Linked DNA regions of Homo sapiens: region 2 is linked to region 1. The links come from fine-mapping of genetic effects on gene expression. A gene starts in region 1. The other region holds a variant in brackets. All regions are shown on one strand. Distances are between the middles of the regions. Region 1 holds the start of LINC01593 (long intergenic non-protein coding RNA 1593). Region 2 holds the start of SULT1C2 (sulfotransferase family 1C member 2).

Evidence for each region.
Region 2: its variant is fine-mapped to the expression of LINC01593 in kidney cortex (GTEx, PIP above 0.99). The same link has a PIP of 0.9 or more in stomach.

Annotation. Positions count from the first base shown.
Region 1 is chr2:108,049,671-108,055,051 of GRCh38, forward strand. LINC01593 (long intergenic non-protein coding RNA 1593) reads right to left here and starts at 3,085. Exons shown (of 3, transcript NR_135071.1): 1 at 2,964-3,085; 2 at 1-115.
Region 2 is chr2:108,285,369-108,290,749 of GRCh38, forward strand. It overlaps SULT1C2 (sulfotransferase family 1C member 2), which reads left to right and starts at 3,527. Exons shown (of 8, transcript NM_001056.4): 1 at 3,527-3,702. The variant C/T (reference allele first, on the strand shown) is at 3,206.

The DNA of each region.
Region 1 (5,381 bases):
GATGCCAGCCTCCCTCAGGATGGCTTGCCATTTGCATTAAGTATTTATCACAGAGAGAAATAGTCATGGCCTGGCACAACACAAACGATGGATTTGGAGAAATCCAAGCAAGTCCCTGGGGATAGAGAAAAAGGAATGTGAGGCTTTTGCTTTCCTGAGATTTGATGGAATCTTTGAAAAGCTGCTCACCCTTTTCAGTTGGCATGACTACAAGTAGTCTACATTTGTTTATGTCAAGTTGTAAAATTTACCATGCCTATTTATATATACATTCAGTAGCCAGTCACGTAGTCAACAAATAGTTTTGTTCAGTGACTACACATATTAGACACAGCTTCAAGAAACTGCTCTGATATAATGTCCAATTCTAGTGGTAAGAACTAGTTGATAAATATCTCTGTGTTGGCATAACCTCAGGGAGAACCTTTCTGTCCCTTCCTAAGAAGATGATCTCTTAGACTGGCTCATTCCAAATGTGAAGCTGAGAATGCCTCCTGTGTGCCATTGCTCTGCATGCGGTTTACTGGAGTGGGGAGGAACACTTGGGGAATTCCAGAACAGAGCTGAATATAAAAGGAAAGGAAAATAGCACGTAAAAAAAAAACGCAAAAAAAAAAAATGAGAAGAGACAGAGCTTGAAAATGAGAAGGAAAGACACAAAAACAGGTAAAAAAAAAAAAAAAAAAAGCAAGAAATTGAAGCAACCCCCTCTAAACCCAGCAGCAACAGAGCACCCTGTGGCTGGTACCAGCAGTGACTCCATTCACCCTCAACTTTTGTTGGGTACATGTCACAGATTTCATTAATTCCTCCCAAAAAAGCAATGATAAATATGTAGGGTATATTTCATATGATAGAATGAAAATGCTTTCTTATGTTCCTTGAGGTGCTATTATACAGACACACCTTCTATCAAAAATATAAGTATGACATAGGTTTTGAAGCTGGCTATCTTCGCCTTGGAAGTGTCGCAACAGATCTACTTACTTACAATGAAGACAGTGCTTCTCACTGGAGTCTTTCAAAATCTCTCCAGAAACAATGATCTTAGGCTATGCTGTTTTATCGGGACTATTGTGAATGTATAAACTACTCATTGCTGGTAATGGTAAGCTGAATGGAAGCTATTGAGTAAGTAAATGTGTCTTCAGAGGTCCTTGTCAGCCTTTGAGAGAAAAAGGACACTCACTTATAAATGCAACAAATATTTATTATAGACCTCCCATATGTCAGGATCTGGCCTCAGTTCTGGAGATAGAGCAGTTGAATAAGAGGTCCCTGCACTAGTAAAATGCTAATCCTACATATTTATCATACTCCCTACCTCTCAGGAGGGACCCATCACCCATGGAAGTGACCTAGACATGTCAGGTTTCAATCCCAGTGTTCTAGGGACTCAATCTTGAAAACATAATTGGTTAGGCCTCTTCTTCTATCTCTGTCTCTTTCTTTTTATTCCACCAATGTCGTAAGGATGAACAGGGTGGCCAAAAGATCCTCCCCTCTCCTTGCGTCCACTCCAAGCACTGGTAAAAAACAAGGTCTATCTTGCTGATTTGAAGAGAAAATGATTCACTTCATTTTCTCCAGTGCCAGAAACTGTGGCAGAATCTCCTGTCCTCATTATGCATGGTGAGTTTCACAGTGGAGGAGGTAATAAGGGAAGTTCTGGTGACATTTTAATTAAGAGACCTAGAAATGCCTAAATCCTACTGTGATATCACTGCTCCCACCTTCCCATCTTCTCAAAGAGCAGTTATGCACAGAGGAAAACAGCCACAGTAAAGAAACCTTTTATATGTGGCTATGATATGGCTCTTCAACTTAATGTACAACTTTTGCACTAGAGGGACACAAGAATAGCTTCATTTTGCTATGCTAAAGAGGCTGAATGTCTTAGACCAAAGCTGGCCATGTTTCCCTGGGATCGGGTGGAGGTTCAGAGGACTTCCTTTCTTTGAAGGCATCACTACCAACTTCCCTGTCTGAAGCCCTCCTTAGTAAATTGTCCTGAGGCACAGTAACAATACCACCATAGCAAACAGACTCAATTACAGGCTGGGCAGTATTTAGCTGTACTCAAATTGCCTCAGCCTATGGCCTTGTCATTTCCATCATTATGGCCCCAAGACTTAGTTCTTATCTTCATCCTAAATCTTGATATTGCAGTACTATGCACTGGGTTCCCATGGTAGCCCGCAAGAAGTCTTTGTTGCCACATGTCCCTCCTGTAATCACTTAGATCCATGATCTCCCTCGGCTTTTGGCTGTCATCCCATGATGTTAAAGGCTTGTGTCCACCCCTCTCCTAGTATTTGGAGCCCAGTCCCCAAAAGTCTATCTAGTGATGAGATCCTTGTTCTCCAAAGCAGACGCCCTGAACATTGACTTGCAGCCCACAGGGCTCTCCACTTGCACACAGCCTCATGCCTCTACTTCTATGCTGCTGTTAGGGCCAGCTTGGAGCTCCAGGGCCAGCCATTGCCTCAAACAGGACCGTTTGGAATTGTACTAACACATTGGGCCTCTCCCACCTGGCTGAATCGCTGCCTCCATCGCAGACCACCATCCACCCCATCCTGTTCTGCTGGATGAGAGTTCCTGACTCCTCCCTTCTGTTCCATGTTGACATAAAACCATCATGCCTAAAATCTAAATTAATGGCACAAAAACCCACACTGTTCTTCCCTCCATGGGACTCTCTTCCCTTCCCAGATTCCTTAAACCTCACGCCTTCTCTTCTAATCAAGGTGTTTCTTCAAGAAAAGAACACGGGAGATGTGTCACTTCAACGTGGCAGTAAACTAACAGGGCTTCATCGTAAACCAGGTATTTGGAGCCCAGTCTACTGTGGATTCTCCACAGTGAAGGGTGAGCTCTCCTGGTTACAGGAGCATGGAACATTCAGAACATATGTGGGGGATGTTTGGGGACATAAGGGTTTCCATGTGTCCCTAACTCACCTTCAAGTAAGATGGAGACAGGCTTACAGGGATGCTACGCTGAGATTATTTTTCCCTGAAGAAGCCCCTCAGCTTTCCGTCTTCCTCAACCTGTCTTCTGTGTTGTGCAGAGGTAACCAGATCCTCGTCAGAGTGTCCAGAAGCTCCCTGCACACACAATGCAGAGTGTGAAGCCAGAGCCAGCCAGGCAGGGCACATTACAGTCTCCAACCTTGTAGAGACTCACGATTCCTTCTTAATCTCAGCATTCACAAACCCATAAATGAGAGCAATGGTACTTGCATTATCTGTTGAGAGAAAAACATATTGGCAAAAGTTACGAGATGCATATAAAAGTTCTATATAAAATGTTGAATTTGTTAATCATAACAAGCTATACACATATAGAAATAAATAGCTGTATGCGTGGGCAAGAAAAGCTGTCAGCCCAATCCATAAGTCACGTACAGTGTACACATGAGGGGTCCATATGCCTGGCTCTTACTCCACAGCCCTGAAAGTTTCTTGTTCTGAAGGTATGTGCCACTGGGTCTGTGTTATTAGATTGTGCATAATTTCCCACTAATAGTAGGAGACTTCCTGGTCTGTCCCAAGATGTTTGGCATCACAAGCACAACCTGAGCCCCATTTACCAGTTACAGACAGGAAGTTTGGGGCATGGGGAGGGATTCATTCCTCCCAGTCTTGGATCCATGTCCCTGCTAACAACAGTGGAGGGGCGGGGGTAGATGAAAAGTCTTCAGTGAAGAAGAGATCGCTTCTCTTCTCAGAGCAAAGCCAAGGAACAGTAGGCTCTGTGCTTAGTTCATTGACATATCTTCAACATTTATTTGGTCTGAATTACTAGGAAATACTGACCCTCATCCAGAAAGTGATAACCAAATTGGTAACCTTTCAAATGAGCAGCATTTTCTCTTCCTTTGGCCACTCAGTGACCTATTCTATTAAATGGAGATTAGCAATTTCTTCTCTCAAAGATGTAGTACCAAAACTACATGGAGAAGATAGAAACATATTTTCACACTTCTCCTTTATCCATAAGGGAAAAAGAAGTTATCCCTAAAAGTCATTTCTTTTCCCTTGGTGAGGCAGCCGCTGGTATTTCTATTATCCCTTGTTGGTGTTTGGATCAACTGTCCTCTACATCAATTTATGCTCTTAGTAAGTCTTCAATGAATCATCAGAATCAAGGCTTGTCTAAGGCAACATATTTCAAAGATAGAAAAAGTTTCCAAAGATTTATACATCTACTTCTGAGAAAGAAATATAAATTAAGCCTTCAATTTCCTTCCTGAAGCTCATGAATAAAATCTACTTTCTGGGTAAGTTCTATGAATAAGACTTCCTCAGGGCCTAAATATACTGTTGTTTATTAATTTCATTTTCCTGCCAAGAAAGTATTTTTTCCAAAGAGGCAGTGAGTCTAATTATTGCCAAGAATGATCACAACCCAAGTTTAGAAATTACGGAGTTGAACAATATGCACCTTAATTCTCTACTTTCTTGAAATAAATGCATTCTGCATTCTTTTGGTGCTTATTGAGAATCAGTTGTGTGTCAGGTCTTGTTAGCAATGAAAATAGGAAGGTGAAAAAGACACAGTCCCTTTAAGTTCTGGGAAAGCACAGTGTGCAAGGGAAGCACTGGAGAAGTAACTGGTCCAATCTTGGGGAGACGGAAGAAAGCTTCCATCACTGAGGGCAAGGGACACCTCAATGAGACTTAAGGAAGAGTAGAAGTCATGGGACAATCTAGACCAGTGCTCCTCAAAGCAAGTACCATGCATGGGTGTCAATTCATAAACTGCCTGTTATCGTAACAAGATAAGTATAAAATTGAGAGTAGGCATTAAGAAGCTTTTAGAGCAATTGGACAAATATCCAAATGTGATCAGCAGACTTCTATTTTATGTTTTTATATTTGTTTGTTTCTAATAACTATTTTCAATTGTATTTTATAAAAAGATGTAGTCTACAATGGATTGGGAATTTAGAAAAAGAAAAACTGGCACTTTCTCATCCAGGATTTGAGAAGCAGTGATCTTGTGTGTGGCTAGGGAGGGCTGGGAAGAGGGCACAGAGCAACAGATTCTAAAGCTTGCCTCTGAGGCTGGAAAGACAGGCATGTTCTGGGAACTGCAGTTCCTCCCAAAGCATCATCTCCTAAAATACATTCTCTCCTTCCTACAGCTCACAAGCAATCCTTTCTCTGATCATGGTAATTCTTAACATTGTACATGCTCTCTATGTGTCTGGCACTCCATTAAGCACTTTATCTGTGTGATCTAATTGTTATAACCAGATGACAAGGTAAATGCTCTTATTTTTCTTATTTTGTAAATGAGAGAAGTAAGATTTGGCAAGGTAAAACAACTTACCTAGGTTACATCCAGAATCCCAACCCAAGAATCTCTGTCTC
Region 2 (5,381 bases), 240 kb after region 1:
ATGAGTAGGAGAATATGAAAGAAAGGAGATAGTAGAAAGTGAGGGAGAAAAAGACTTGTTCCATCTTTCCCTGGGTGACTGGACAAGAATTAGACAAGAAAAGAGAAAGGGAGAATTAAAGCCAATGAGCATTGCAAAGTAAGAAAAATGGCTTGAGAGACATGTAATTATGTGAATTGCGGATGGTCAAAAACAGAAGGAAAAAAATTTAAACGACAAGGGAGCACAAGCCAGGAGAATGCTGAGCCAGTTTCCTGGATAATAAGCGAGATCCATGAAGTTACAAAGGAGTCAGAGTTTGCCCACCTAGTACCTCACCACCTGCAGGAAAGAGCTCATCTGCTCTCTTGTGGACTTGGTCAAAGGATCTGTGTGACTGAGGCAAGTGTTACAAAGCTTGCCTGAAGCAGTTGCAGCTGTAGGACATAGCACCCAGAAGGAATGGCTATGTCCCGGGGGGAGACCTTTGCTCCCGCTGCTCCTCAAAGCCAGCCTGCTGGAACACAGGCACCTTCCACTTTGTGCCAGTGGCACAAAGCAGCTTGGCTACTTTTCCCAATTGAAAACCATGATCAGATCCCTCACAAAACTCTTCCAGGAGGCAATAGTGACTTTGGTCTTTCTAGCGGGACAGAGGCTGCCGTGTAGACATTCCCCTAACTCCAAAGAAGGCACACTTTACCTGGTTCTCAGAAACAGCTCAGAAAGTTCCAGAGGTACATGAATCACAAATCAGGGAAAAATCCATGTGGATGGATTATGTATAAACCAGGGCAGGGACTAGGGTGAGGTAAGGGCATAGCATTGAAGGAGGCATTCATTCTCTTGCACGGCCCTGGAGCGAGTGTCTCCTTACATTTTGCACCTTAGTTCCCTCATTCAAGTCCCAGTCCCGGTGAAAACTAAAGTTTTTGTTTCATTCATTTGTTTATTCATTCAGTAAGTATATTAATCCAGTTGAATGGGTACATGGTACAGGTGGTCTTAGAGATAGGCCCCAATCGACACACTGGGAGGGTAGTTAATTTCCTCATTCAAGTAAAAACAGAAAATTGCTGTAAGAGAAGGCCAAATTAATCCTATGGACCACACATTGTATGATTCAATTTATATAAAATGTCCACAATAGACAAGTCTATAGAGACACAAAGTAGATTTTGGTTTCTTAAAGCTGGAGATGGTGGTAGGAGGAATTAGGCATGACTATTAATAAATATGGGGTTTCATTTTGGGGTGATGAAAATATTCCAAAATTGAGTGTGATGATGGTTGCACAACTAAAAACATTGAACTGTACACTTGGGTGAAGTGCACAGTATGTGAATTTGATCTCAATAAAACTTATTTTTAAAAAAGCATATGGTAGTTCACAGAGAGATTGCTTCCAGCTATAACCTAAGGAAAGGCTTCAAGGAAAAGATGGGTTCAAAGCTGAAGAATCTGACTCTATGGAAACAGAGTAAGAACATTTTTTTAGAGATGGGATCTCACTATGTTGCCCAGGCTGGACTCAAGTAACTGGGATTACAGGTGCACAGCAGTGTGCCAGGCTAAGAGTAAGAGCATTTTTGGCAGGGAGAAACAGGAGTAAACCAGGGAGGCAGGAAATTATAGGATGCATACAGGGGACAGTAAGTCATTCAGTTCACCTGGTGTGTGGGGCCCATGGTGGGGATGGTGTTATATTAAAGAAGGCCTTGAGCCAGGCATTCAGGAGGCTTGAAGTAGGAGGATCACTTGAGCTCAGGAGGTCAAGGCTGCAGTGAGCTATGATCATGCCTCTTCACTCCAGCCTGGGCAAAAGAGTGAGACCCTGTCTTATAAAAAATAAGAATTAATGAATTTAGAAGGTCTTGAATTCCAAGTGGAAGCACCCAGAATTTGAGCCATAAACAACCAAAGGATAGCCTGATCTGAGCTGAGCTTAATTTATATGCTGAAAGTATGAGAGACTAGTAGGGAAGAGACCAGAAATAAGGAGACTGCTAGAAGATTGTGCAACATCCCAGTTCATCCTCCACAAATGTGGAGGAAGCAGATACTAGCAGTGGTTACTAACTGTAAATTCTGGGATTGTAGAGACTGTGACCCATGCAGACAGCAAAGGCAGGGAGATGCAGCATGCAGCGCAGCATGGCACCGATACTGGCAGACACTTTAGTAGACTTAGGGACTTTAACTGCAGAGAAAATGTGAGGTTGCACTAAGAACTGTGAATCAGCCCTATGGGGCTGAAAATTGACAGCACTGGGATAAGTGGAACTGGAAAGAGAGCAGAAGTAGAAAAATAAAGTTCAGCCGGGCGCAGTGGCTTATGCCTGTAATCCCAGCACTTTGGGAGGTCAAGGCGGGCAGATCACCTGGGAGCAGGAGTTGGAGACTAGCCTGGCCAACATGGTGAGACCCCGTCTCTACTAAAAATACCAAAAAAAAATTAGCTGGGCATGGTGGCGCACGCCTGTAGTCCCAGCTACTCAGGAGGCTGAGACAGGAGAATCGCTTGAACCCGGGAGGCGGAGGTTGCAGTGAGCCAAGATTGCACCATTGCACTCCAGCCTGGGCAACAGGAGTGAAACACCATCTCAAAAAAAAAAAAAAAAAGAAAAAAGAAAGAAAAAGAAAGTTCAATTTATTGGGAAAAAAAGAGCCCTTTGGAAACAAGGAGGAAGAAGAAGTGTCGGCAAAGAAGCATTAGGAGGTTCAGGGTCAAAGAAGACAAGGAAAGCTTTGGCAAGAAGGGCAGATGGGGTGCAGAATTATGCTTCAATTCCAGAAAGGAAAGCACTGGGGTAGATACAAGGTTGGGGCTGGCAGAAGAGTAGCAGTTCAGAGATCATTAACACTTGATCCATTTAATTTCCCAGGTAACCAAAGACACCATGGAATATAATCTGCCTCCACTAAAGTGTACCTTTTGTACAATAAGGCAAAGAAAAAATAAGTACACACCTAAGCTCTAGACTTTTGTTCTATCCTCTCTGCATTTTCGGTGTGGATGAATACAACTTGGGAAGAAAGGAAAGAAGAACCAGCAGTTTTAAGCACTTACTATTTGCTCTGCAAAGTGTATTCATCAACATTGTTGCTTTCAATCTTAAAGCATGGATTGGAGACAGGCAGTATTACCCACACTTCATAGATGCAGAAATTAAATCTCAGGCTAAGGAGGAAGGAAAAGGGAGTTCACCAAATAAGCAGGAGCCTA[C/T]CTGAAGCCTGATGCATCTGGTCCTAGAGCCAACCTTCCATTTCCCCCCAGCCCCCACCTGTTTAAGCTTCGAGGCCAGTGGGAGGAGGGAGGGGCCAGGCAGCTGAGGGCCAGGAAAGATGTGAAAAACTCTAGCTGGTGACCGAGAGGAGGAGTAGAGTGTGCCCTTAGTTCATATGAACTAGAGGGAGTTGGTATTTGCACAGCAGTCAGGGTCACATGAGTGATCATGGTACAGTGAGAAGTTCTCCCTCCCAGGGCCAGGTCACAGGGTTTGTTTCTGTTCAATCCGGATTCTTCCAGTAAAAGCTTCAACTTCCCACACTGAAGCTGAGAGCCTCCCAAAGTGCTGGCTACCTGCTGAGCGCCCCCGTAACTCTGACACAGTAGTAATTTGAGCCTCTGCAATTGCCGTCTGCTTCCTGTGAAAGTCCTTTCCGTGCCCACTGACCCTTGAGTGGGCCTTTGAGCTGCTGACTTTCAGCTGGAACTTGAAGGTAAGAATATGGCTTAAAAGAAATTCTGTACCTAACTCGTTAATTTATTTTTTAACCTTTAGCCACATAGGTGTGGCTTTACAGATGCATTTATTCAAACCAGAAAAGATCCTAAGAATCTGATAAAATAATATAAAAGAGTTTTGTTAACAGCCTCCAGCCTAAAAATTCAGACCTAGAAATTCAGGACCCCCCTCAAATCACCTCCAAAAGCTCTCTCTCCTGTAATACTATCTCTGTCTCCCACCCTGATCTTTTCCCAAATACCCTCCCTGTCCCATCCTCCTCCAGGGCCAGCTCAACTTCTCTGGCCAAGACTATTTCTTCTTCCATGACAGCCCTCCTCTTATGCCAGCCATTGACTAAGACACATGCTGGGCCTGCAAGGGGACTGAACCAGATCCTGTGCTCCAAGGGTCCAGACTTATAAGCAAGTAATTGTAGGACGTGGAGTAAGACCTATAAAATTTGCACACAAAATACTATAGGATCCCATGGAAAGGAGTGATTACTTCTGTTTACAGAGTCAGGGATGCCTCCACAAAGGAGGCCATAGTGATCTGGCCTGATATGATGAAAATGTCCCTGCTGGCTGCTCAAGGGGAAATGTATGTGTCTACATGCCTGACTCTCCAAGGGCAGGAACCATGTGCTGATGTGGCCCAGCAATGAGGGGCCTGGGGAGGGTGAGAAGGACTTGGGACTTCTCCTGTGGGAACTGGCAGATCCCTCTGCTCCCACTGCACTACCCAGCTGCCTCAATCTCTTGCTGCATCTCCTTCTCCCAGCTTTAGCCAGGTTCTATCACTCCCCGTGCAGGCCTCCAACAAGAGCAATACAGTGGGATCCATAGTTCACTGGACAGCCAAGCCCTTAACCGCCCTGGTCCTCAGCAGCAGCAGGTGCCCTTCCACACATGTTCACAGCTGTGCCCAGGCCCTCGGTCATCAGCTACCTGCCCAGAGCACAACGCCTACCACAGAGTTGGTCAATGTGTTGCGTGGATTATTCTCAGGGCATTAGTTCAAGGCCAGAGCCCTAAGCTCACATGTACACCTGCCTACAGGTGTACATTGGGAAGTCCCATAAATACATCAGACTCAACCCCAGAATTGGACTCACCATCCCCTCACCCCCACCCTATGGAGGACCTTCTCACTGTGTCCTTACATGGTCTTTCCTCCATGTGCACACATCCCTGGTGTTGCCTTGTGTGTCCTAATCTCCTCTCATTACAAGGATACCAGATTGGAATAGGTCTCATCCTAGCAGCCTCATTTTAACTTAATCACCTATTTAAAGACATTATCTCCAAATACAGCCACATGCTAATATACTATGAATTAGGACTTCAACATATGAACTTAGAGAGACACAATTCAAACCACGATAATGTCCGTCTTAGTCCATTTTATGTTGCTATAACAAAATACCTGAGGCTGGGTAATTTATAAATATAAGAGGTTTATTTTGAATCATGATTCTGGTGGCTGAAAAGTCCAAGAGCATGGTGCTGGCATCTGCTCAGCTTCTCGTGAGGGCCATGCTGCATCAAGACATGGTGAAGAAATAGAAAGGCAAGCAGGCATGTATAAAGGGACCAAACTCACCCACTTCTGGGAGATGGCATTAATCTACTCATGTGGAATCCACCCTTATGGCCCAAACACCTCTCACAA